Linked DNA regions of Homo sapiens. The protein of the gene in region 1 binds, or shares a complex with, the protein of each later gene. Each region holds a gene or a part of one and is shown on either strand. Other genes may lie near its edges. The genes, in order: SMC5, NSMCE4A, NSMCE2 and EID3.

Evidence for each region.
Region 2: SMC5 (region 1) and NSMCE4A share a complex: the UniProt entries of both Homo sapiens proteins name them as parts of the SMC5-SMC6 complex.
Region 3: SMC5 (region 1) and NSMCE2 share a complex: the UniProt entries of both Homo sapiens proteins name them as parts of the SMC5-SMC6 complex.
Region 4: SMC5 (region 1) and EID3 share a complex: the UniProt entries of both Homo sapiens proteins name them as parts of the SMC5-SMC6 complex.

What each region holds. Positions count from the first base shown.
Region 1 is NC_000009.12:70,261,976-70,269,013, forward strand, and holds part of SMC5 (structural maintenance of chromosomes protein 5), read left to right. Parts: intron 1-2,328; coding exon 2,329-2,470; intron 2,471-5,947; coding exon 5,948-6,000; intron 6,001-6,643; exon of another isoform or gene 6,644-7,038. UniProt on the Homo sapiens protein: Core component of the SMC5-SMC6 complex, a complex involved in repair of DNA double-strand breaks by homologous recombination.
Region 2 is NC_000010.11:121,972,203-121,979,701, reverse strand, and holds the start of NSMCE4A (non-structural maintenance of chromosomes element 4 homolog A), read left to right. Parts: upstream 1-4,484; 5' UTR 4,485-4,536; coding exon 4,537-4,828; exon of another isoform or gene 4,829-4,835; intron 4,836-4,896; exon of another isoform or gene 4,897-5,396; intron 5,397-5,620; coding exon 5,621-5,698; intron 5,699-5,872; exon of another isoform or gene 5,873-6,179; intron 6,180-7,499. UniProt on the Homo sapiens protein: Component of the SMC5-SMC6 complex, a complex involved in DNA double-strand breaks by homologous recombination. The complex may promote sister chromatid homologous recombination by recruiting the SMC1-SMC3 cohesin complex to double-strand breaks.
Region 3 is NC_000008.11:125,353,856-125,360,893, forward strand, and holds part of NSMCE2 (E3 SUMO-protein ligase NSE2), read left to right. Parts: intron 1-3,363; coding exon 3,364-3,464; intron 3,465-3,856; coding exon 3,857-3,963; intron 3,964-7,038. UniProt on the Homo sapiens protein: E3 SUMO-protein ligase component of the SMC5-SMC6 complex, a complex involved in DNA double-strand break repair by homologous recombination. Is not be required for the stability of the complex.
Region 4 is NC_000012.12:104,299,924-104,305,705, forward strand, and holds EID3 (EP300-interacting inhibitor of differentiation 3), read left to right. Parts: upstream 1-3,815; 5' UTR 3,816-4,011; coding exon 4,012-5,013; 3' UTR 5,014-5,282; downstream 5,283-5,782. UniProt on the Homo sapiens protein: Tissue-specific component of the SMC5-SMC6 complex, a complex involved in repair of DNA double-strand breaks by homologous recombination.

The DNA.
Region 1 (7,038 bases):
TGCAGGCCGGATGCAAAGAGAAGAAAGAGAAGGTAGCTGGAAGTGCAGAGGTTGGTGAGATGCTGTTTATTTTAATGAGGGGATTTTGAGTTTTAGGCATGAGGTAGAGAAAGATGCGCTTAGAGAATTAGCAAGGAAATAAGATGGGTAGTTAGAGAATGTAAATGGCCTGGAAGAGAGTAGTGAGTGAACCAAGTCAAATGGAGTTGGGAGTGGAGGAAGACACTTGGAGGCTGAAGGAATAACATGTGCAAATACTTCAGAGCAATAAGGAATTATAGTCACAAAACTGAAAGAAGTACATTATAGGTAGAATTTAGAGGTCTAAGGAGAGAATAGGGAAAGGAGATAAAAAGTAGAAAAAGATGAAACTCGGCTGTGATGGGTTTTTCCTTAATTTTTCTTTTTTAACAAGTGACATCAGATTTACAATTCTACCAGCATCACTTGGTGATTGATTGGATGATGGAGTGGTGGTTTGGGTGGAGTCAAAAGAGATGAAAGAACCAAAGAGGATGCAAAACTAATGCCTAGGTTTCTGATTTGGTCAATGGCATGAATGATAATACCATTCACTAAGAGACCACAAGAGTGGTTTTGGATGGGAAAGATGGTGGATTTCGTTTTAAATGTGTTAAGTTTAAGATGACTGTTATGGGACATTCAAATAGCGTTATTGAGGTGACCATTGCATATAGAGGTCATCTGGACTGCTTTCAGCATGTAGATAGTATGCAAAGACTTGGAGAAAAAAAGGAATCATTGAGGCCATAGAGAATACATGAGATACCTCGTGAAGTATATGGAATGATAAGAGGGTGGGTCTTTACCAATAGCTCTTTCAGAGGGAGCTCAGAGGAAAGGAAACTCATGATAAGGGAATTCCCAATAAATACATCGTAGAATCAGAAGATTGATTTTAAACAGTGCAGACACTTGATCTGGGTAGCTAAAGGCAAGAAAAATCCCCCGCCTACCCCCGCCAAAAAAAAAAAAATTGCAGAGGCTTTGTTTTTGGCAACTGTCCCTATTTGTAATATCGATGCGTATTTTATAGGCCAGAAATTCTCATGCTTTTCCCTGTTCTGTTTTCTTAAATACCAGTTTCATCGTTTTAGTATAACATTTACACAGAGATTTCACAACAGGAAATCCAAGTGGGGCTTCATGTGTTGAGCGTAAGAAGTTCCATGTCAGGTAATTTCCTACATGTCTGAAGTTCCCAAACTAGTTTTATTGTAACCATAATAAAGGGCTCTTTTGAAACCCAGCTGCTAGCAGAACAAAACAGCTAAAAAGATAAAGTAGTAGATGCTGTGTAGAGGTGTGGGATTAGCAAACCTGCCAGAAAATACGTCTTTGCCACCTGTATTTTTATTACCACCCGACATTTCAAAATCATTAATTTCTTAAAATATTAATGTGTGTGCTTGGTTATTTATATACTTAGCAGATGAATAGCAGGCTAAGCATTTATTCATGAGGAATTAGTTGGCAGCTACCTGAGAGCTAACTGAAATGCTGTGGACAAAGGACACTTTATGGGTTCAAATTCAGAGTATTCAAAGGCGAGTTAAAAGAATGTCTGAGTCAGAGTTTGCTTCACATTTTGTCATAACTGTCCCTAGCAACTAATAAAGATTAGATGCTAACTATAATTAGAGTGCTAGTCAGCTTTCAACTTTTGTTTTGTAGGGCAGTGTCTCTCTATGATGCCTAGGCTGGCTTTGACCTCCTAGGCTCAAGTAGTACCCTGGCCTCAGGCTCCCTGGTAGCTGGGACTATAGGCACATACCATGGTGCCTGGCTTGGAAAATAATTTTTAAAAGTTAATAAAATGAAACCTTTGGGTTGAGATATATCTTCAGTTTTGTAATTAAAAATCTGCTTAGATTGTTTGAAATATTAAAATATGAATAACCATTAAGCATTATAATTTAAAAGAAATATGAATGTAAAATTCACAGATTCAAGGTAAGCCGTGGCGTCTCCTATAAAATTTGTTTTAAAGTTATTTTGTGTAGTATCTTTGATATAGTGTCCAGTGTTTTGTAATTATTAAAAAAGAACAAGGTATCAAACTTCACTTTCTTCAGCAGACTTTTGAAAAAAGTATATGAAATTATATTCTTTAGTTATGCATTACTGCCTTTTCATTTCTTCTATTGGTATTCTTTCTAAAGTTGTTTATTAAAAACCTATAAAAAAACATTAAATTTGTAAGGTTAGCTAGTTTTTAAAGGAATTTGAGGAAGCTCATAGATAATGTAAAGCAAGGAAAAGTGGTTTTGTATCTCTCCTTAATAATTTCATCTCTTTATAATTCAGAACATATGATATTTGTGAAGTATCTCCTGGACCCCACTTGAATATGATCGTTGGAGCCAATGGAACAGGGAAGTCGAGCATTGTGTGTGCCATTTGCCTTGGTTTAGCTGGAAAACCTGCTTTCATGGGACGAGCAGATAAGGTGAGTTAATATAATTACTTTTTAAGAAATTTCAAACCTATTAATTGCTTTTAGTAACATCAATTTCTACACCTCAGTTCCTTGGGTATAGCAAACTTAATAGTGCATGAATACAAGGAATAAATTTGGCAGGTAGAGAAGCTAGAAGGAGATTTTCATTTCTAGAAGTATTTTGGATCATAATACTAGAGGATTCTTCAAGTCTCTTACACCTAAAATGCTAGAAATAATGTAATATGTCTTTTTTTTTAAATGCATCACTTGGCTTGTGGAACAGTGAAGTAAACTTACAAAGGGCAGAAACAAAATCCAGTCATATGTTGCTTAATGATGGGAATATATTCTGAGAAAATGCATCATTAGACAATTTTGTCATTGTGTGAACATAATAGAGAATATTTACACCTAGATGGGTTAGCCTACTATCCACTTAGGCTATATGGTGTAGCCTATTGCTCCTAGACTACACTCCTGTAGAGCATGTTACTGTACTGAATACTGTGGACAATTGTAACACAATGGCCTACACTGTACTTATGTAAACATCTCTAAATATAGAAAAGGTACAGTAAAAATACAGTGTAAAAGATAAAAATGGTACACCTGCGTAGGGCACTTAACCATATTCATGAGAGTGGGGGGCGGAAAAATACTGCCCGAACAATCCAGAGGGAGTCTTGAGAAAGGAGGAGGAGGAGGAGATAAGAAACAGATACAAAAAATGAGATCATTAAAAATGACAAAATATTGGCTGGGTGCGGTAGCTCATGCCTGTAATCCCAGCACTTTGGGAGGCCATGATCAGGAGTTCCAGACCAGCCTGGTCAACATGGTGAAACCCCGTCTCTACTAAAACTGCAAAAATTAGCCAGGCATGGTGGCGGGTGCCTGTAATCCCAGCTACTAGGGAGGCTGAAGCAGGAGAATTGCTTGAATCCAGGAGGCGGAGGTTATAGTGAGCCAAGATCGCACCATTGCACTCCAGCCTGGGCAACAAGAGTGAGACTCTGTCTCAAGAAAAATAAATAAAATAAAAATCACAAAATAAGATGGTAGAAATATGTGCAGATATAATCACAATGATTATAAATGATCTAAACTCTAAACTCTCATTAAATTATAAAGTCTGTTAGAATGGAGAAATGAAACAATGTTTAGTTCTCTTTTGTTTTTAATAAGCATATCTAAAATAAAGTGCTACAGAAAAGTTGAGAGTGAAAGGATGAAAAAAAATACATGCCAGGCAAATATGCAAAAGAAAGTAGATGTAGCTGCATTAATACTAGGAAAAACAGACTTTAGAGCAAAAAGTATTTTATAGATAATAGTGGTCATTAAACACTGACGAAAGTTTTAATTCACTGGAAGATAATTCGATTCCCAACTCAAATTCACATTATAATCTAGCTCCAAAATATATAGGCAAAATCTGCAGAATGCTAACAAGCAGTTAACATATCCATAATCATACTGGGAGAGCTATCAATAATAGTAGACCAGTCAGATAAAAAAATTAGACTACAAAAGATTTGAACAATGAAGTTAAGCTTGAACTAATGGACATATTATAAAAAGTGCACTCAACAACTGGAGAGTATGCATTCTTTTCAAGCACAAGTTAACATTTCTAAAAGTTAATTGTATACTGAGTCATAAAGCAAGTATCAAAAAATTTCAAAAAATGGACACCACGTAGACCATATCCTATTTCTATTAAGATAGAAATAATAAAAAAAAAATTAAAAGTTAATGGATGGTTACAAAATGGAAGCAAATTCCCCTTAAGATTATAAATTATTTAAAATGTGTGTGTGTGTGTTTAGTGCTATATGGAAGACATTTATCAGGTAGAAGATACTTTTCTCTGTTAATAACTAGCCTTGTGACCTTGAGCAATTATCTGGACTTCAGTTTTTCTTCATTTCAAAGATGAGAGAGTTGGAACAGATAGCATCCAAGGACCAACTCAGATTTTTATGAATATTGATATATAGTTTTTTAATTGTCAGATCATTTAATCCCTATCTCTTTGTAATCGTCTGTTGGATTGTACTCCAGGGGCTGTACAGTAGGACTGAATTGGCTATAACAATTTTTACTAACTTTCTCATGTTGATTTTTGTCATGAAAACACATCTCATCCTTGAGTGATAGGATTTTTAAGGGAGGCTGTGGAGTGCAGTGTTTCCTAGATGACAGATTGCAGCCCTTTGGGTACACAGATGTATTTATGGGATGCCCAAGTTCTCAGCAAGAATATTTAATGTATTTTTGTTTAAATGCTAATATAAAAATTTAACAAAAACATACTCTACACCATCTGTATGGATACTTTATAATAAGAACTGCCTCCTGATTTTTGTTTCCTCCTCATTGGTACCAAGTCTTTTAATTCTTGCAAGCTAATGAGCAGATGTCATTCCTACATGGATGTCCTTGGTTTTCCTGTGAGGAAACAGAGAGGTTAAGTAACTGTCCAATGTTTAACAACTTGTATGTGGTGGAGTTGAGATTTGAACCTAGATAGTAGATGTTAAAACCTGTACTTTTAAGCATTAGGCTGTACTTGGTGGTTACAAGATAAGGCTTTTTTTTTTTTTTTTCTCCCATCTTTCTGGGACTCAGCTTTATTGTCTATAAAATGAATGTATACTTCAAGGTTGCTTATGAGTATTAAATGAGAAAAATACATGTTTAGTGCTTAGCACAACAGTATATAGTAAATGCTTGATAAATGTTAGCTGTTGTCATCACTGTCATTATCACTATTAAAAAGATTACTATTTGTGAGGTATATTTTCTACCTTTTTTAATATTTATCACTTATTTATAGCCTGATTTAAGATCCAGTCTGATTTTTTTAGGCTCAGACTTTGTTTTCGGACTTAGACTCATAAGCATATAGAAACTAGCACAGATATGTCTGCTTTATCATGTAAATTTCAATTATATTGCTCCTTTTAGAACGATGCTTGGTGGCAATTATATCATTAACAGGATAGGTAATATTAGCGTGGTTGTTAATATTTAACCTGCGCGACTGTAGGAAGTCTTCAATGGTAATAAGAAGCTTTGAGTGCTTAGTGGTTATACTATAGGACCTGTTTTCCCACAGGCATTTTCTCTTCTGTCTGGGTGTTTAATATAGTGGACAAGTACACAGGCTCTGGAGCCAAGATTTCCTGGGTTCAGATCGTTTTTCTGGCACTTACTGGCTTTGTCACGAGGTTGGTAAGAGGCTATGGAGTGCATAGGAGTTCGATAAATCTTACCTAATATTATTATTGTTGTTATTTGTGGGAGGGAACAATGGAGGAACCCAGATCTGGGAGAGATACCTTAGAAAGTGACAGGAGCGAACATACAAGTGGTACCTGAAAAAAATCTTGATTTGACAAATAATAATGACTGCTAAATCTCTGATTGTTAACCTGGGAATGTCACTACACAGCTCACTTTTTCTTTTTTATGTCTTAGGTTGGGTTTTTTGTGAAGAGAGGATGTTCTAGAGGCATGGTTGAAATTGAATTGTAAGTGTTAAAAGTGCTAAAACTCCTTTTTCCTATAAAATTCTTAGTTTATATTCATGTTTTCCTGATGATTAGAAAAGAGTATTAATATAGTATTATGGCATAAATATTGGAAATAATATTTAAAGAATACTTAATCCAGATAAGTAAGGGGTTTAAAAAATATATTTTAAAAACTTAAATTGTAGGCTAGCCATGGTGGCTCATGCCTGTAATCTGAGCACTTTGGGGAGGCCGAGGTGGGCAGATCACCTGAGATCAGGAGTTGGAGACCAGCCTGACCAACATGAGGAAGCCCCGTCTCTACTAAAAATAGAAAAATTATCCAGGCATGGTGGCACATGCCTGTAATCCCAGCTACTGGGGAGTCTGAGGCAGGAGAATTGCTGGAACCTGGGAGGCAAAGGTTGCAGTGAGCCGAGATGGCGCCACTGCACTCCAGCCTGGGAGACAGAGCTAGACTCTGCCCATGCCCCCTGCCCCCCCCAAAAAAAAAACTTGTGAGAATTTTATTTTAAAAAATTATCAAGGAAATGATAAGTTTATAGCAGGTAATGAAATAGAACTATACTACTATTAAGTAGTCATGATGAAGTTGCAATATTTTTCACAAATTTAAAGTATCTGGGTTTTTTTTTTTTTGCTGATCTTGAAAGTAATACTTGCTTGTCTTTAAAAAACGCAAACAATGTAGAAGTGTATAATGTTGAAAATAAAAGCCTTCTTGCCATCATTCCTAATTCTATAAATAACTACTGCTAATAGTTTGATGAATCTCATGTATGACAAGGACTTGGTACTTCTGTCACCATTTTTTATTTTCTCCCTTATGACACCAATAATTCATCATAGTATTCTTTTCCCTTGAGCTTGGATATTCTCAATTGGCCATTCTTGGCAGCTATTTTTGATAGACTAGAGTTGATGTTTATGATGAAACCAGTTGACCATCCTTGGTATATATAATTTTAATCCTTTACACATAAATATGCACATTATTTAGGTGATTTTTAGAGACTGTTGCTGTTGGAATATTAG
Region 2 (7,499 bases), on another chromosome or scaffold:
AAGTACCTGAATTATCTGTGTGCCCTGCTGTGCTTTGTAGGGTGTCTAGCCTATGAGTACACCTCAAATATTTTTATTTATTTATTTATTTAGAGATGGAGTCTCACTCTGTCACCAGGCTGGAGTGCAGTGGTGCACCATCTTGGCTCACTGCAACCTCCGCCTCCCCGGTTCAAGCAATTCTCCTGCCTCAGCCTCCTGAGTAGCTGAGACTACAGGCGCACGTCACCATGCCCAGCTAATTTTTTGTATTTTTAGTAGAGATGGGGTTTCACCATGTTGGCCAGGATGGTCTCGATCTCTTGACCTCATGATCCACCCTCCTCGGCCTCCCAAAGTGCTGGGATTACAGGCATGAGTCACCGCGCCCGGCCCTCCCTCAAATACTTTTGAATTGAATGAGTTATTTCAGGGTTTTTTTGTTGTTGTTGTCATTGTTTGTTTTTTGAGATGGAGTTTTGCTCCTGTCACCCAGGCTGGAGTGCAGTGGCATGATCTCGGCTCACTGCAAACTTCGCCTCCCAGGTTCAAGTGATTCTCCTGCCTTAGCCTCCTGAGTAGCTGGGATTACAGGCGCCCACCACCACGCCTGGCTAATTTTTCGTATTTTTAGTACAGACGGGGGTTTCATCATGTTGGCCAGGCTGGTCTTGAACTCCTGACCTTGGGTGATCCACCCACCTTGGCCTCCCACAGTGCAGGGATTACAGGCGTGAGCCACTGCACCTGGCCTATTTCAGGTATTTTTGTGTGGAGCTTGGAATGAACTTTTGAGAGGTGACAGCGTGCTGGCAGCCCTCGCTCGCTCTTGGCACCTCCTCGGCCTCAGCGCCCACTCTGGCCGGCTTAAGGAGCCCTTCAGCCCGCCGCTGCGCTGTGGGAGCCACTTCCTGGGACCGAGGCCAGAGCCGGCTCTCTCAGCCTGCGGGGAGGTGTGGAGGGAGAGGCACGGGGGGAACCGGGGCTGCACGCTGTGCTTGCGGGCCAGCTAGAGTTCCCTGTGGGCGTGGGCTTGGCAGGCCCGCACTCGGGAGTGGCCGGCTGCCCTGGGCAGTGAGGGGCTTAGCACCTGGGCCCGCAGCTGTGGTGGGTTCGCGGGGTCCCCCAACAGTGCCAGCCCACCAGCGCTGTGCTCCATTTCTCGGCGGGCCTTAGCTGCCTCCCCGCAGGGCAGGACTCAGGACCTGCAACCCGCCATGCCTGAGCCTCCCCCTGCCACCGTGGGCTCCAGCGTGGCCCGAGCCTCCCCGATGAGCGCCGCCCCCTGCTCCAGGGTGCCCGATCCCATCAACTGCCCAAAGGCTGAGAAGTGGGGTGCAGGGCGAGGGACTGGCAGGCAGCTCCACCAGCCACCCTGGTGCGGGATCCACTGGGTGAAGCCAGCTGGGCTCCTGAGTCTAGCGGGGACTTGGAGAACCTTTATGTCTAGCTAAGAGATTGTGAATACACCAATCAGCACTCTGTATCTAGCTCAAGCTTTGTAAATGCACCAATCAGCACTCTGTGTCTAGCTCAAGGTTTGTAAATGCACCAATCTGCGCTCTGTGTCTAGCTGATTTGGTGGGGACTTGGCGAACGTTTATGTCTAGCTAAGGGATTGTAAATACACCAATCGGCACTCTGTATCTAGCTCAAGGTTTGTAAATGCACCAATCAGCACTCTGTGTCTAGCTCAGGGTTTGTAAATACACCAATCAGCACTCTGTATCTAGCTAATCTAGTGGACAGGTGGAGAACTTTTGTGTCTAGCTCAGGGATTGTAAACGCACCAATCAGCACCCTGTCAAAATGGACCAATCAGCTCTCTGTAAAACAGACCCATCGGCTCTCTGTAAAATTGACCAATCAGCAGGATGTGGGTGGGGCCAGATAAGAGAATAAAAGCAGGCTGCCCTAGCCAGTAGTAGTAACCCACTCAGCTCACTTTGCACACTGTGGAAGCTTTATTTTTTCGCTCTTTGCAATAAATCTTGCTGCTGTTCACGCTTTGGGTCTGCACTGCTTTTATGAGTTGTAACACTCACTGTGAAGGTCTGCAGCTTCATTTCTGAGGCCAGCAATACCACAAACCCACCGGGAGGAACGAACAACTCCAGACACGCCGCATTAAGAGCTGTAACACTCACCGTGAAGGTCTGCAGCTTCACTCCTGAGCGAGTGAGACCACGAACCCACCAGAAAGAAGAAACTGCGAACACATCTGAACATCATAAGGAAAAAACTCCGGACACATCACCTTTAAGAACTGTAACACTCACTGCGAGGGTCCGCGGCTTCATTCCTGAAGTCAGTGAGACCAAGAACCCACCAATTCTGGACACACTTTCACCTGGAAGAACGCTAAGTATTCCATTACAGAACACTGAGCTACAAGCAACAACTATGAAACAATGACCTGGTTTAAACCATGATTTATGGCTTACTTTACAGGGAGTCTGGAGGCATGTGGTTGATTCAGCAATTCAGCCATGTCCATCTTTGCTCTCCAGTGTCTCCAGCACTCTAGTCTTTCCTCATGCTTGTCACCTCGTGAGTACCAGATGCTGCCAATATGGCAGGCTCCACATTTTTTCTTTCAGACGTTGTTTCATTCTTGTCACCCAGGCTGGAGTGCAATGGCGCGATCTCTGCTCACTGCAACCTCCACCTCCCAGCTTCAAGCAGTTCTCTTGCCTCAGCCTCCCGATTAGCTGGGATTACAGACACGCACCATTATGCCCGCTAATTGGCAGGTTCCCCATTTCTTATGCCAGCCATCTCAAAGGGGGTAGGGGGTCAAGGGTTTTCTTTTCAGGAAGGTTTGTATTCCATCCAGTTGGGAAACCCTTTCACATCTCACGGACCCAGGTTGCATCACATGACCCTTGACCAGTCACTGGGGAAGGGGAATGACATTACCGTGACCTGGTTAGAGTGATCACGTTTCATCTAAGGAAGTAGGCACACACGTCCCCTTCAGGAAATACAGATAAGCAGGGATGGGTGAGGTAGTAGCTGTTGGACAGCAATGAACAGTGCCTAACTTAAGTTTAGTAGACATGATGCACAAAATGGAATATTTGTAGGTTGTGTAATAACCCAACTTATAATATTGGTCTTTTGAGAAAATGTGTTCTTAGCACCAAAGACAACTTTTGGGAAACAATACTCGAATACAATCCAAAATGCACGGAGTGAAATTCATACATTTATCTTTCAAAGTATACTTAACATAATTCCATCTTTCTTGGGCCCTTCAGGAGGTATTCTTAGAATCTTCTAGTTTGAGAATCAGAATCAGGCTGTGCCTGGTGGCCCATGCTTGTAATCCCAGTACTTAGGGAGGCCGAGGTGGGCGGATCACTTGAGGTCAGGAGATGGGGTTGCAGTGAGCCAAGATAGTGCCACTGTACTCCAGCCTCGGCAGAGCAAGGTCTTAAAAAAAAAAAAAAAATCAAATGTGAACATAGACTGTCATTAAAATCAACCCAACAATCCCATAGACTGTTTACTATTTTTTTAATAAACTTAGAAATTATCATTTCTAGTCTTAAGGTTGAAACTTACCTTTGTTTTATCTGAGTTCCTTCCTCAGGAAAGGACCTCCAGAGCCTCTCAAAAAGTATCAAAAAACTGAAACTCGCCATATCACCGCATTCCAGACAATGAGATGCCAAGCCCCTCATGCATCCCCATAGCTTCCTTCCCCCTCCCGAGTTCCTCTTTTCCCATACATTGTTACATTGCTTCCCTGCAACTGTATAAACCCTTAATTTTAGTTGGTCAGGGCAATGGATTTGAGACTGAGCTTCCAACTCCCTGAGTGCAGCACCCTACTAAAGCCTTCTTCCTTGGTAATAATGGTTTTCTCAGTGATTTCTGTGAGGGGGCAGCGGGTCCTAGAACAAAACCCTGGTGCTCTGGTGACATTCTGTTGTAGATATTTAGAAGGATGTTTACCTGTTAATTTGTTCTGCTATCCTCACAAAAAATGGTATTGCCAGCTGCACATAAATATTTGATTCATCCACCCACCCCTGTTCCCCACCCCCCCGACCCCAGCCATGATGGCACAGGGAAACTGAGGTCGCAGGTGAGCAGCAGACCGCGTCTGGACTCCACATCCCGCGCTCATCCTGCTCCACAGCAGGAAGCTCGTTCAACACACATGGACTGCGTGCCCATGTGGGTGCCAGGCTGCGGCTGTGTCCTGGGCAGGCAAAGGGACCTAGGGAAGATGCAGGTCCAGGAGGGTGGGAAAGTAGGGGCAGAAAACCAAGATTCTCACAGCCCTGCAGTGTGGAGTAAGAGCTCATTACACCTCTTGTCAAGGGAACAAAGGATCCCCGCCAGGCCCCTCTTGTGCACCCAGCGGTCCCCCCAGGCGCCTTGGAGACCCGGCCGGGCCCGTCGCCGGCCTCCAGCCACAGGCGTCGCTGTGCGCTCGCGCGGGCCCGGGAGCCGCGTTCCGCCGGGAGCAGGCGCTGGCGCAGAGCAGGGGTTTCAGTTTCTGGCGCGAACTTCCGCCGTTCCGAAGTTGCACGGTGAATTGGCGCTATGTCTGGGGACAGCAGCGGCCGCGGGCCAGAGGGCCGGGGCCGGGGCCGCGACCCGCATCGGGATCGCACCCGCTCCCGCTCCCGCTCGCGGTCCCCTTTGTCGCCCAGGTCCCGCCGCGGCTCTGCGCGGGAGCGCAGAGAGGCCCCAGAGCGCCCGAGCCTGGAGGACACAGAGCCGTCGGATTCCGGGGACGAGATGATGGACCCGGCCAGCTTGGAGGCGGAGGCCGACCAAGGCCTGTGCCGCCAGATCCGCCATCAGTACCGGGCGCTCATCAACTCCGTCCAACGTAAGGCGGCGCCTCCGGGCGGCGCGGGCCCGGACGGGCCGCTGTCCCCGCCCTGCGCCGGGCGCGGGGGGAGGGCACCGGAGGCAGGTGCCGGGCGGAGGCCCGGCGCGGCGTTAGTAGAGACGCGCCGGGTGCCAGCCCCTCGCCGCACCTTAAATTGTTGACAAAGTGCTCCCACTTTGTGGCTGGAGCCGTACGACCTTGGCGCGGGTCCCCGAGTGGCGGGCTGGAAAAGCTGGAGGCCAGAGCCGTTCGCGGACTCGCCCGAGCCCAGCCAGCCAGTGGGGAGAGGCAGGACGCGGACTCCGCGTGCTTTGATTGCGCCCGGCAGTCCTCGGCGTGGGCTCCCGGCCTCGCAGCGGCAGCTGCAGCTGCAGCGGCACGCGAGAGCTGTCAAATGCACGTTCTCGGACCCCACCCGGACCCGCGGAATTCGAATCTCTGGGTGGGTCCGCGCAACTGTGGAGTGGCCCTCCAGGTGATGGTGTGTATTGCTTGCAAAGTTTGAGAACCACTCAGTTATGGAGCACTCAGAGGCTGCAGCCGGAGTCCAGCCCTTTGGGTTAAGGTTAGAGGGAGCTAGGGTTTCCTTTTAAAATTCATGCTGCATAAAGGGTAGGGTGGCCTTTCTCCTTTTCCGGGTCATTTTGGTTAAAAAGATAAAGATGTTCGAAGTAATTACTCAGAGCGCAGGGGCCGGGGCTTGGCTTTACTGTTGCAGGTGATAACCTTGTCAACTGCTTATTAGTGAATGCTGAACAAATTTCCCAAAGTTTGTATTTTTAAAAATAGAAAACCGTGAGGACATACTGAATGCCGGTGACAAATTAACAGAGGTCCTTGAAGAGGCTAACACTCTGTTTAATGAAGGTAATTTGTTATTTTATATGTTATTTCGTGTTTTATGATACTTTTAATTAGTGTTACATAAGCGCCAAATTATTGACATAAAACAATTCCCACATTTGTAATAGTGCTTTCCCAGTTCGGGAACCGTTTCATTATAGCAATAATGCCATTTTTATTATGCACTTACCATATAATAAGGGCTTTACATGAAAATTTGGGGGTAGGTTCCGCAGTCTGTGTTAAGCCCCCAGTTGATTCTGTTGCCTCTTCAAGTTTGAGAACGTTACATGTGTTATCTTGTTTCTTTTTCTTGTGTTTACTGCCGTATCCCTAGTATACATTGGTTGAGTGGATGAATTACAGAACTGAGCTAGCCTCTGAAATCCTGTTTCTTTTCCTGTCCCATTCTGTTTTGCCTTCCTCAGCTCCCTGCTATTGGTCCACGTGTAACACAATGGAGGTGGCAAAGCCTGCAAGTGTACCTGCTGGTCTCCAGTCTGGGGTGTGTTGTGTGTGAGTGAGTGAGTGAGAGAGATCCCAGAGCACTGAACTCTAGGCCATGGGTGCTTTAAAAAATAACCTTAGTTTGAATTGAAAGCAGAGGCAGTGGTATTGGTAGCAGCTGTCTGTCTGCTTGGTGACAGAGGGGTACTCCCTGATGTGGGTACTTGGTCATAGAGCCACAGGACTACTACCCAGACCACTGTCCCCTCCAGCCCTCTCTGACGGGTCTGTGGGAACATAGGGGAGAATGCAGCCAAATATATCCTTTTTTTTTTTTTTTTTGAGGTTTGAGATGGAGTCTCTGTTGCCCAGGCTGGAGTGCAGTAGCACAATCTCGGCTCACTGCAACCTCCACCTCCCAGGTTCAAGCAATTCTCCTACCTCAGCGTCCCGAGTAGCTGGGATTACAGGTGTGCTCCATCACACCCAGCTAATTTTTGTATTTTTAGTAGAGACGGGTTTCGCCATGTTGGCCAGGCTGGTCTCGAACTCCTGACCTCAGGTAATCCACCTGCCTCCGCCTCCCACAGTGCTGGGATTACAGGCATGAGCCACCGCCCCCGGCTGGTTCCTCATATTCTTAAAGGACTAGAACGTATATTTTTAGTCATTGCTGAGGATGACTAGTTCTTTAAATGTCTCCTTTTATCACTTTATATATGCTCTCCAATTTCTTTGACCACAGCCTCCTTACCATTCCCCATCTTAGTCTACCGCATTTGCTAACTCTCATCAAAACCTTCAGGAACCGGGTGTTTCTCCTTCACCTGGTTAAATCCCTCTACTACCCTCTTAAGTTTTGTCTTCCCTTCGCAGCCTGGACTCCCAGTCTCCTTACTGTTAGTCTTGCTTGACTTGACTCAATTACTCCCTTGATATTTACTGTGCATCTAGTCAGTTCTTTATCCCCACATCATTCCCCCCTCAGCTATTTCCAGTATTTAAAGCAATATTTTAGAGCAAAATTATTCACTCATTGGAGCCCTAGGAGTTGCTCAGCAAACAACAGATGCTGGCATTCATGGATTTGATGGTCTCAGTTTGTAAAATAAATAAATAAATGAAAGGGGAAGGGAGTGGGGCAGGCAGGCACAGGATACTCATGGGAGATAAAGAAGGGATCAACAAAAGGAAACAGCGGGGCTGAGGGGGTTGCTTAATCAGACCCTGCAGGCAACAGAGAGTATGAAAAATAGTCTGGGAACACCTACACCTGTCGCCCAGGCTGGAGTGCAGTGGCATGATCTTGGCTCACTGCAACCTCTGCCCCCCCCAGGTTAAAGCTATTCTCCAGCTTCAGCCACCCGAGTAGCTGGGA
Region 3 (7,038 bases), on another chromosome or scaffold:
CTGGGCGACAAGGGCAAGACTCCGTCTCAAAAACTAAAAAATAAAAAATATATATATATATAATTTTATTGCTGTCAATTTGTTGTTTTTTTTTGAGACGGAGTCTTGCTCTGTCACTCAGGCTGGAGTGCAATGGCATGATCTCTGCTCACTGCAATCTCCACCTCCCAGGTTCAAGCAATTCTCCTGCCTCAGCTTCCTGAGTAGCTCAGGTTATAGGCGCCCACCACCACGCCCAGCTAATTTTTGTATTTTTAGTAGAGAAGGGGTTTCACCATGTTGGTTAGGCTGGTCTCGAACTCCTGACCTCAGGTGATCTGCCCACCTCAGCCTCCCAAAGTGCTGGGATTACAGGCGTGAGCCACCGCACCCAACCTTGCTGTCAAAATTTTGAAAAAATATTTGTATAATTTTGCTTTGGAAATAGGTTGGCTACCAGTAACTGATTTAATTTGTAATTGACTATTAGTTTCAGCAATTATCTTACCATACTGGGAAATTTTTATGAAGTTTATGAAGAAATAAATCCAGCCCTACATATTACTTCCAAATTATGTATTTTCGATTACCGGATCAACAATTAATGAAGTTAACTTCACATTTGCATAGACCTTTAACATTTAGTAATTTCAGTACTATTGTTATTCTGTTTTGAAGCCAACCAATGGTTTTTAAGGTCTCAGACGTTTGTTTAGCTCTCTGAAAAGCTGGAAGCCCCGAGGCACTGCACCTTAATGCCCAGTGGTTAAAAATGCTCTGACTGGTTATTCCCAAGCCCTGAGATCTTCACTGCCTTCTTCAAAGAATAAAAGCTGGTTTAGGGGACAGCAAGCTGGCATACAAATATACCAGTCTACTCCAAGAAGGTGACTCTCTAAGAAAAACAAAGTAATTGGAGGCAGAATCCCTGTGTTGCAATTAATTCACCAGGTTACCTTGAACAAGAGCTCTGCAGCCCTTTCCCTGCCCCTCAGTACAGCTTGAGCATCCCTAATCCCAAAATCCAAAACCCACAATGCTCCAAAATCCAAAACTTTTTGAGCACCTACATGACGCCACAAGCAGAAAATTCCACATCTGGCCTCATGCAACAAGTACACATGAGTGTTAAAAATGCTGCATAAAATTAGCTTCAGGCTATGTGTGTAAGCTTTATATGAAACATAAATGAAATTCATGTTTAGTCTTGGGTCCCATCCCCCAAGATATTTCATCATGCTTATGCAAATATTTCAAAGTCCGAAATCCGAAACACTTCTGGTCCCAAGCATTTCGGATAAGGGATACTCAACCTGTAGTGCCTTTGCAAACAAACACCTCATCTGGCCTAGGTGATGGCCCACAGTCATCAGTTCTATGGAACCGAAAGGTATGCCACACCATCTGAACCAGAAACAAGGGCTTCCTCTCACACATTGAGGAAAGCCATTTTTATGTCTGTATTATTTTGCCAAAATTAAAGAAGGAAGGGAAGGGAGAAAAGAGTAGAGAAGGGAAAGGGAAAGGAGAAGGAAGGAGAAAGGACTACACCATCAACATGTTTAGAAAGCTACTGATCTTTTGGCTGGGCCCCGTGGCTCATGCCTGTAATCCCAGCACTCTGGGAGGCCAAGGCGGGCAGATCACCTGAGGTCAGGAGTTCAAGACCAGCCTGGCCAATATGGTGAAACCCCATCTCTACTAAAAATACAAAAATTAGCCAGGCATGGTGTCGTGCACCTATACTCCCAGCTACTCAGGAGGCTGAGGCAGGAGAATCACTTGAACCTGGGAGGCGGAGGTTGCAGTGAGCCAAGATCGCGCCATTGCACTCCAGCCTGGGTGACAGAGCGAGACTCCATCTCAAAAAAAAAAAAAAAAAAAAAAAGCTATTGATCTTTAACTTCTGTGCAAAATTACAAGTATCTTTTCTTCAGAGAGAATGGCTTTCATGTGAGATACTCCCATCATCCCATTCAAATGTTGTCTATCATCTGTTTTTGGTTTGGTTTGGTTTTTCAGTTGGGGGCCAATGGGATGTAACTCAAAGAACATCAGTTTCAGAAGCAGCTCATGCTCTGTTCAAAGCCAGTCCTGTCACTATCACTCAGCAGTTCTCAAAGTGCAGGCCAGGGATCTCTAGGGTGCTCCAAGGGTCTTTCAGAGTGTCCATAAGGTCAAAACTGTCTTTATAATAATAGTATGATCTCATCTGCCTGTTTCACTCTCATTCTTTTCATGAGTGAATTTTCCCAGAGACTACAGGATATGTGATATTGTGACAGATTGAATGCATACGCAGATATCCAAATCCAACTGGCTGCTATGAAGCCAGACATTCAAGATATTTATAAAAATGGAAAACAATGCCATTCTTCTCATTATGTATGTCTGTGTGTATGGGGGGGGGTGTTCTGGAAATATAATTTTAACTTTTAAAATGTTTATGGTAACACGTAGTGGGATTATTACTGTTACTTTTAATTTTTTGGTTTTTTTTTTTTTTTTTTTTTGAGACAGAGTCTCGCTCTGTCACCAGACTGGAGTGAAATGGCAGGATCTTGGCCCACTGCAACCTCCAACTTCTGGGTTCAAGCGATTCTCCTGCCCTAGCCTCCCAAATAGCTGGGACTACAGGCACATGCCACCATGCCCAGCTAATTTTTGTAGTTTTGGTAGAGATGGGGTTTCACCATGTTGGCCAGGATGGTCTCGATCTCTTGACCTCGTGATCCGCCCACCTCAGCCTCCCAAAGTGCTGGGATTAAAGGCGTGAGCCACCGCAACCGGCCTTATTGTTATTTTTTAATGAATTTTAAATTCCTTAATCTTAATGTCTAATATGTTAAATATTGATAAATATAACCCACATAGAAAAAGCTTAAAAGAGTTCATACCTATAACTAAAAAGTTTGAGAAGCCCTGCACTACCTAATTGTAATGACTGTTTATTGATTATTGCTTTGTACCATGAGCTGTGCAAAGCATACCACATTCTTCATCTCTTTTAATCTTTGCCACAAGGCTGTAAAGCAGAGGCTTTAAAAAAGGGCACCTTGCTAGCCCAGCGTCTCACCACTGGACAAGAAAGAGATCACCAGGTCGGTTCTCTGACTCTGAAGCCACACCCTTGGTCACTTTCTCTATAACTTTAAAAAAGATTCTTTTTAACTGCTCTGAGCCTCAGTTTCCTTATCAAAAATAGTCAGAATGAGGTACCCCGTAGTGTTCTCTGAAAAGCAGAAGAGTTTCTATGCATCCAGTCCTTACATGGGGGCCAACAGCAAATGCTCCCCCAGAAACTCTTCACCTCCCTTCCTTCCATTCCTTCCTTTTCTTTGACGTTAGACCAGAGAGGCTTATCAACTCTCCATTTTCCTCTAGGTGGTCTTCAAGCTGACAGAGAAGCTGACGGAACAGAAGGAGTGGATGAAGATATAATTGTGACCCAAAGTCAGACCAACTTCACCTGCCCCATTACAAAGGTACCGCTTCCTCCTACTTCCCCTGAAAGAAACACGATTCACTTCACAGAGGCAGAAAGGTTCCTGTTTGCTTTCTGGTTTGATTTCACTTAGGGAGTTAAGGAGGGAGTAAAGAAAAGTGCTGGGGGTTGAAGAGTATCCACGGGAGGTTCTTGGGCTGGAGAGAGCTGTCAGTCAATCATGCCCTGAAGGATCCGGGACTAAAGTCATGGCCTACAGGCCAAGTGACAGTACTGCCACTGGATTCCCTGCATTTCCTTATCTAAAGCCTAGTAATTATGTAAAGCCATGAGAATGGGAAGTTAAACATAGAAAGCTCAGGACTAGGACGAAACAGCTACTGGAAGTTGATCATTATCATTCCTGAAAGCCCAACATCTCCTTGATTACAGGAGGAAATGAAGAAGCCAGTGAAAAATAAAGTGTGTGGCCACACCTATGAAGAGGACGCCATTGTTCGCATGATTGAGTCCAGGCAAAAGCGGAAGAAAAAGGCCTAGTGAGTGGACGCAGGGAAGGAAGTGGAGCCTTCCCTAGTGGTAGTTACTCAGAGGTGGCGTGTTCACGCTAGAGGAAGAGGCACTTCAATGTCTCTTCTAAATTCCGTTCACCTCCCGAATACTGTAAACATGGAAGTGGGCTTTCTGGAAAAACAATACATGAGGGAAAAATTAGTAATCTGTTCAGGAAGAAGCTGAGGGAACTTCAACCACACCTTCAAAACAGAATAAGGCCAGGCAGGGTGGCTCATGCCTGTAATCCTAGCACTTTGGGAAGCCGAGGTGGGCAGATCACCTGAGGTCAGGAGTTCAAGACCAGCCTGGCCAACATGGTGAAACCCCATCTCTACTAAAAATACAAAAATTAGCCAGGCTTGGTGGCAGGTGCCTGTAATCCCAGCTACTCGGGAGGCTGAGGCAGGATAATCTCTTGAACCCAGGAGGCAGAGGTTGCAGTGAGCCGAGATTGTGCCACTGCATTCCAACCTGGGCAACAGAGCTAGACTCTGTCTCAAAAAAAAAAAAAGGTTTAGGTAAATTCATGGCTAACTCATGAATGATAAATTATTTTTTTAATTGGAAGTTTTGCAGAATCTTTATAAATAGACATAATATATATTATATGTTATATATTGTTTTATATGTATATCATATATTATTTATCTTTAAATATATATAATATACACACACACACATATATATATCTCACCTTCCTTCCCCTTCTTCCATGACCACGGAGGACCATGCTCTGTTCCTGTAATAACATAGAATCCTGAGTTAGCCAGACTGACTGGCATTGACTTCGTTTGGCATTTCTTGTGCTCTTATCATGGATTTGTTGCAGGAATGGAATTGCAGGTGTGACTAGTTCTCAATTGACTTCTGATAACAGTCCCTTTGATGTGTGGCTTGCTTCTCCATTGCCCAGAAATTTGCTGGTCCAGACCTAGAATTGGAATTCCCCAGCACTCCTCATCTGGGTGTGGACTTAGAGATAATATATTGGAGACTAAAGATATCTTGATGGTCATTCAGGCAAATAACTTATCCTATGTATTCTAGAAGAATAGTGGCTTTGCTGCCTAATGGTTGCAAAATGTAGACATTCTTAGTACATTTTGATCTGTTTTGAGTTTTTGAGTTAACAGTTGAAATGTCAGATTTCGGCCAGGCGCGGTGGCTCACACCTGTAATTCCAGCACTTTGGGAGGCCGAGGCGGGTGGATCACGAGGTCAGGAGATAGAGACCATCCTGGCTAACACGGTGAAACCCCGACTCTACTAAAAATAAAAAAAAATTAGCCGGGCGTGGTGGCAGGCGCCTACAGTCCCAGCTACTGGGGTGGCTGAGGCAGGAGAATGGCATGAACCCGGGAGGCGGAGCTTGCAGTGAGCCGAGATCATGCCACTGCACCCAGCCTGGGTCACAGAGTGATACTCTGTCTCCAAAAAAAAAAAAAAAAGAGGGAGGATTCTGGGTTGTTAAATGGCATGCTTTCTTGCTCTTTCTCTTTTTTTTTTTTTTTTTTTTGAGACTGAGTTTCCCTCTTTTTGCCCAGGCTGGAGTGCAATGGCGTGATCTCAGCTTACCACAACCTCCGTCTCCCAGGTTCAAGTGATTCTCCTGCCTCAGCCTCCTGAATAGCTGGTATTACAGGCATGCACCACCACGCCCAGCTAATTTTGTATTTTTAGTAGAGATGGGGTTTCTCCATGTTGGCCAGGCTGGTCTCAAACTCCCGAGCTCAGGTGATCTGCCCGCTTCGGCCTCCCAAAGTGTTGGGATTACAGGCATGAGCCATCGCGCCCAGCCATGGCATGCTTTCATTAGTTTCCTTATCCATAAATGAATGACAATCGTTGTAATCACCTCATTGGCATATTTGAAATTTAAATAAGATACATGCAAAGTACTTAAAGTAGCTGGTACACAGTAGGGCTCAGTAAAATTATCCCATCATCATCTTCAAACTTGAGCCACTATCAACATCCTCTTCGTTTTTTTCCACCATTGCTCTATAGGCATGGGAGACGAGGACAGTTTTAAAGGAGTAAGATGAGCCAACCTGGAGTTTAGGAAGTTACTCCAATAGCAATGCAGAGATGGATTAAGGAGGCATGAGGCAAAAAAAAGTCAGTTAGGATGCTTTTACAGTGGTTTAAGTTATAGAAAATTAGAGTATAGAGATACAAGAGTGATTGTGGAGGTACAGTTAACGACATTTGACGACTGACTGAATGTAAGAGAAAGGAAGAAGCAGCGAGGGGTGGCTGACATTTCTCATCTGGGTGTCTAATACTGTCATTTGCTCATTAGCCTCCAGAGAAGGCATGAGAGAGGAACACTCTTATTGGAGGATTGTGATAGACTCAGCTCAGGTCATCCTAAATGCAAGGTCCCAGCAATACAGCCCCGTGGAAGTGTCCAGGAAGTGCAGCAAGTGTGAGTTTTGCAGTCAGGGGAGGACTCAGAACTATCGATGTGGATTGGGAGGTTATCAGTATAGACGAGTCAACCCGCTCAACTACCGTCACAGATGCAGCTCTGGAACAAATGCATTCACCAGCAGAGAGCCAGCAAGGCAGGACCCGCACCTCGCCTGTGATCTCCACAAGGCCAGAGCCCGACTTCGTTCTGCTCACTGTGATGCCTTAGCACCCTGGTGCCAACCCTCAAAAAACACTTTGTTGACCAATGAGAGGATCAATCAGCGGAAGAAGACCCCTAAAAAAGCAGTCTAAAATATAGCCAGGAGCCAGGAAGAGTGATAAGGAGTGGAGGCTCATGGGAACTTGTGGGCGGGGTGGGCAGGGTTCTGAAGGCCAGGTGCATTTGGGCAGCAGTAGATTAGAACTCAGGGCCTTCTTGAAACCAACTCCAGAAGTTTCTGATGAAGCATGAAGTCGTATCATTTCCCATGATGCACATTAGAGTGATGAGTATTTCTGGGTTCGCTTTGTTTAGAAATGTCCATGACACATTGTCTCATTTCTTCCTCCTAGATTGTTCTAGTTATGTTTGTTTTTTTAGACTGGAGTTCCAGGTCCATTGTGTTCTGGGCACTGCCTGAATT
Region 4 (5,782 bases), on another chromosome or scaffold:
AGGAACAGAAAAGTTTAGGGAGGTAGCTATTAGGATAAGTGTATATGTTAGAGTGTGGGACTCAAACCTGACTGATTCCTGGCTTTGGCTCCAAAAAGTCTCTTAAAAATCCATTTGTTATAGGTAAGTGTTAACAGCAAAACCTCACTGGAGAAAAATAGTGGACTCGTGACTTCTTCCTTTATTTGGTTACAGGGAGACATGTGACCTTTGTCATCCACCCTATCACGTTTGTGTTGAGCAGTATGGGTTGTGGGAAAGAGCTCAAGAATGCTTGGAATTAACCTAAACTCCTAGAAAAGGAACTGAAAATATAGGAGAAAAGGGTGAAGAAAAGAGGAAAGGAAATGGAGGTCTGTATTGAACCCTGGGTAGCAACTCTTGAGCGAAGAAAGAGGAAAAAGGGGAAAGAGGGGAGCTAAATTATCTCTGAGGCAACTCAGTCTCATGGTTGCCTGAACTAGTCTATACTGCGGGAATAAGGTAGACGCCACTGGTTTCTTTGAAGTACCAGTGCGCTTCTTGCTTTCTATTCCTGGTCACAGACAAATTTATCAGTAGTGCAGTTTCTTCTTTTTAAGCTTCATTTAAATAATTATTAGTAGCACTTGGACCTTAGGTTAGGAAATCACTGTTTAATGACTTAAAGATTAACCGGCATGGAAATCCCATTCTTTATATGATTGGGGAGAGTTATTGAACTTGAGATTGTTTTACTTTGTAGCAATGTCTAAAGGCAGATTTGTTTTGTTTTGTTTTGTTTTTGAGGCGGGGTTTCGCTCTTGTTGCCCAGGCTGGAGTGCAATGGTGCAATCTTGTCTCACCCGCAACCTCTGCCTCCCAGGTTGAAGTAGCAGGGATTACAGGCATGTGCCACCACGCCCAGCTAATTTTCTATTTTTAGTAGAGACGTGGTTTCTCCATATTGATCAGGCTGGTCTCAAACTCCTGACCTCAGGTGAGCCACCCACCTCGGCCTCCCAAAGTGCTGGGATTACAGGTGTCAGCCACCGCACCTGGCCTAAAGGCAGATTTTTAAAGGTGGAACATAATGCAAGTCTGCCTTTCTTAGGATGATCTAAGTTACATGTTAATAAAGTTCTTGGAGATCTAGCATAGAATGCATTCAGCACTGTAAATCACAACTTAATGTTTGCCTCGATATGCTCTGTTGCTCTGAGCAAGTTGTGTGGGCTGTTATCTCCTGAGAAATCCCTGTAAATGGTATTAGTAATACTTTATAAGCAGGTTGGGAGAATATAGTTTTCTAAGGCATTTTGAAATTCTTAGATGAAAGGGTCTTTATGTAGCAAATTGGTGTCAGCCTATTTTCCTTCCTCTGAGCCAGAAGAAAATAGGCACCATAGGGTGGGAAGGGTTGGCTTATCTGTTAGAGTTCTTTTGTAAGTAGCTTTTGTTGAATTTTTTTTTTGAGATGGAGTCTCGCTCTGTCGCCCAGGCTGGAGTGCAGTGGCGCGATCTTGGCTCACTGCAAGCTCCGTCTCCTGGGTTCAGGCTAGTCTCCTGCCTCAGCCTCCAGAGTAGCTGGGACTACAGGCGCCTGCAACCACGCCCGGCTAATTTTTTGTATTTTTAGTAGAGACGGGGTTTCACCGTGTTAGCCAGGACGGTCTTGATCTCCTGACCTCGTGATCCGCCCGCCTCAGCCTCCCAAAGTGCTGGGATTACAGGCGTGAGCCACCGTGCCCGGCTGCTTTTGTTGAATTTAAAGTGGATGTGAGAAGCTCCTAAGAATATCGTTCACTGTAAAAGCAGACTTTTTTGGATTTGGGTCTTGGAATTCTTAACTGTATTTTCACCTAAGATTTAAAACAAGTTCAAATACTAGTTTGTAATTGGCCAGACTAGGGACAGATACGATCCTTGAATGATCCTGGGTCTCAACTTACCTTTCTTTCATTTTTCCTTTATTTTAGAAGAGGGATAAGAACTTTTTCTGAAGAGCAGTCAACTTTTCCTTTCAGTGTGTAGGATTAATTCCACGAATCTGTGAACTTAAATCTTTGCTGCCAAATAACTTGCAGTAGATGCTGGGATAGTTTTAAATCTATTTTAAGTTATACATTCAGTACATAAGTGCATCTCCGTGTAAAAACAGCTATGTTTGGAAGATCTAAAACGCAGCTTTTGTTTTTGAGAAGCCAACAATCTAATAGGGTAGGATCATATATATGTACAACTAACCGTAATGCATGGTGTTTTGAAAAATGCACGTATCTCCCTGAATTACCCCTAGTTAATAAAATAATTGGGAGCAAATGGTAATATAAGGATTTTGGAGTAACTTAATACTACTAGATTTTGCTGTTTATACATTTACAAAAAACTTTCTGCTAATGCTAAAGAAATAGAACAAGTCTATATGCATAAAGGAAGGTAGGGCTAATTTACTTCCTGGTGCTATGAAACTGGCAATTGGACAGGTGCAATTGTGGGTGTCTTTTTTTTTTTAAGGTGTACCTGTTGCAGGTTTGAAAAGCTGTTGATGCTCATGGGTTGTTTGTGTGCATGTTCTCTTTAAAAACCAGATGTATTCATTCCCTTTTTTTTTTTTTTTTTTTTTGAGACGGAGTCTCGCTCTATAGCCCAGGCTGGAGTGCAGTGGCCCGATCTCGGCTCACTGCAAACTCCGCCTCCTGGGTTCACGCCATTCTTCTGCCTCAGCCTACCGAGTAGCTGGGACTATAGGCGCCTGCCACCGCGCCCGGCTAATTTTTTGTAGTTTTAGTAGAGACGGGGTTTCACCGGGTTAGCCAAGATGGTCTCGATCTCCTGACCTCGTGATCCGCCCGCCTCGGCCTCCCAAAGTGCTGGGATTGCAGGCGTGAGCCACCGCGCCCGGCCATTCCCATTGTTATGTATACTTTGCTATTTGCTGCTGGTGAGACAGATAAGGAGTCACGTCTTTAACTGCACTTGAGTTTCCAGTGACCCCATTAAATCCAATGGGTAAATTTTCCCACGCAGATTACTCACCCAGTTTACAGATTAAGCTTTCATATCCTTAGACTGTATCTGAAATTTTCATAGCTTTGCCCACCTTTTAGGGTTCAGAGTTACTACCCATTCAGTGTCGGTGGCCTTTAGCTGTTGGCAAGCTTCCAAGTAAATAGCTCTTTTGCAGAGATCTCTACCCATTCTATTCTTCCACTCCTGGGTAGTGGAGAACCAAAGTTCACCTGAGTAATGCCCGTGCCCAGCACCCAGTTTCCTGCAGGGGTTAGCACGGATATTGGAGGCTCCCCCGATCCCACAGATACTCAGGATGGGTATTGGAGGGGGCTTGGTTTTTAAGAGGACATGTGAAAGTAATTAACCCGATTTACATTTGTATAATGAGTCCAAACACCACCTTGCAAAAGAACTGAGAGTTTAGCCTGCTTAATGGAGTTTCTGCTTTTCACGGTCCTTGGCCTTACCGACGGTTTACAGTCCAGCCAGATTTAGTTCACAAAAAACCAAAACCAGGTCGACCTCACTGCAGTATATGATGGCAGCGAGCGTTTTAAAGCGCAGGACCTTTAGTCTCCTCAATAGTTTTGTGTAAAGTTGTCCAAAAGTGTTTTTTTTTAAAGTGAGGTGATCCAGTCGGTAAACGCTTTGAAAAAGAATAGCTGTCCCCTGAGCGGGCATTAGTCGCGTGTGAGGTCAGGGCCCATCATTGCGCGTGTTGGGAGCGCCGCGCTGGTCTATGAGCGAGCGCCTCGGCTTGTGGCTGGGCCGGGCCGGGGCGGGGCTGTCTTCCCGCGGAGCGTGCTGGGGGCGGGTCGCGCCGGGCCGGGCCGCTAGTGCGCATGGGCGGGCGTCCTCGGCTCTAACTGCCGCCACTTTCCACACGCTGGGAGGGCCGTTACCTCAGAGATACCCGTGGCCGGCATGTTGGTTGAAAAAGCTTCCCGGAAGGGAGACGAAGAGAAAGGAGAGGAGCAGCTCGTGATCATCCCCGGTAGCGAGTACGCGGCGAAGTAGGCGGCGGCGGAGGGAGCGCTGATGAAGATGGATGTGTCAGTGAGGGCCGCGGGCTGCTCCGACGACCTCAGCTCTGGGGAGGCCGACGTAGACCCAAAGCTCCTGGAGCTCACCGCTGACGAGGAGAAGTGCCGCAGCATCCGCAGGCAGTACCGGCAGCTCATGTACTGCGTGCGGCAGAACCGGGAGGACATCGTGAGCTCGGCGAACAACTCCTTAACCGAGGCTCTGGAGGAAGCCAACGTCCTCTTTGATGGCGTGAGCCGAACCAGAGAAGCAGCCCTCGACGCCCGGTTTCTTGTTATGGCTTCTGATTTGGGTAAAGAAAAGGCAAAGCAGTTAAACTCAGATATGAACTTCTTTAATCAGTTAGCATTTTGTGACTTTCTGTTTCTGTTCGTGGGTCTGAATTGGATGGAAGGCGATCCTGACAAGTTGAGTGATTGTGATGATAGCATAGCTCTTTCCTTCTGGAAGGCAATAGAAAAGGAAGCAACATCCTGGATGGTAAAAGCTGAGACATTCCATTTTGTTTTTGGTTCATTCAAGCTAGAACGTTCTGCACCAAAGCCCCGACTTGAACACCAGAAAAAAGTTCGCAAGATGGAAGAAAATGGCAACATGCCTACAAAGTTGCAGAAGTTGGACCTGAGTAGTTATCCAGAAGCGACAGAAAAAAACGTAGAAAGGATTTTGGGATTGTTGCAAACCTACTTTCGAAAGTATCCTGATACTCCTGTGTCCTATTTTGAGTTTGTGATTGATCCAAACTCTTTTTCTCGTACTGTGGAGAATATATTTTATGTTTCTTTTATTGTAAGAGATGGTTTTGCAAGAATAAGGCTTGATGAAGACAGGCTGCCAATATTAGAGCCGATGAATGTTAACCAAATGGGTGAGGGAAATGATTCCAGTTGCCATGGCAGGAAACAGGGAGTTATATCTTTGACTTTACAGGAGTGGAAAAACATTGTGGCAGCTTTTGAAATTTCTGAGGCTATGATTACATACTCCTCATACTAAAGATTTCTTAGTATAGCATCCTTTTTGTGTTTTTTTTCTGAAGTTAGATGGAGAGTAAAATGTAAACTGAAGCACATATTGTATCTCTTGTAAAGTGAAAAAGTATTTTCAAGAACATCAGACATTGTTTTACTGTGCAGCATATTTTTCTTAGTAATTTATAAGGTCATGATCTTCTGTTATTAAAACAAATTCACTGGCATATTTATGGGAACGTTTTATTGAATGCCCTTTAAGACTATTAATAAAAACAAGTTTTGGATACCAAATTAAGGGATATTTGATAATTTGCAAAACATAATAATTTACGAAAATCAGTGATGATGCTCTGTGATGCGTTGCTTTCTCTGTCATAGGGAACCAAGAGAATCCCAGAAAGGGTTCCTAACCAGGTTGGGCAAAGAGTGGGTAAAAAACAAAAGTTAAAAAAAAAAACCTGTCTGTAAGGCAGTGAATATGCAACATTAAGACTAAAAAAGTCATTGCAAGGAAGACTTAGGATTTATGAGTGAGTATCCATATTCTAAACAATTTCTGTTATTGTACTCAGCAAAAGTAGTGTCTCTGCTGTAGTAGTTGAGGTATCAGCTAAGGGTGAAAGGTGAGTAGAAACACGAAGAAGGAAAAGGCATTCTAGGCAAGAGAATAGCAAGGTCAAATGCATGGAATTGTTAGAAGTTAGGCACGAGAGGACCATTAGATTTATGGAAAAACTATTATATTTGATAAGCTGGGCAACAATTGAATAACTTCATCTATTAATATCCTG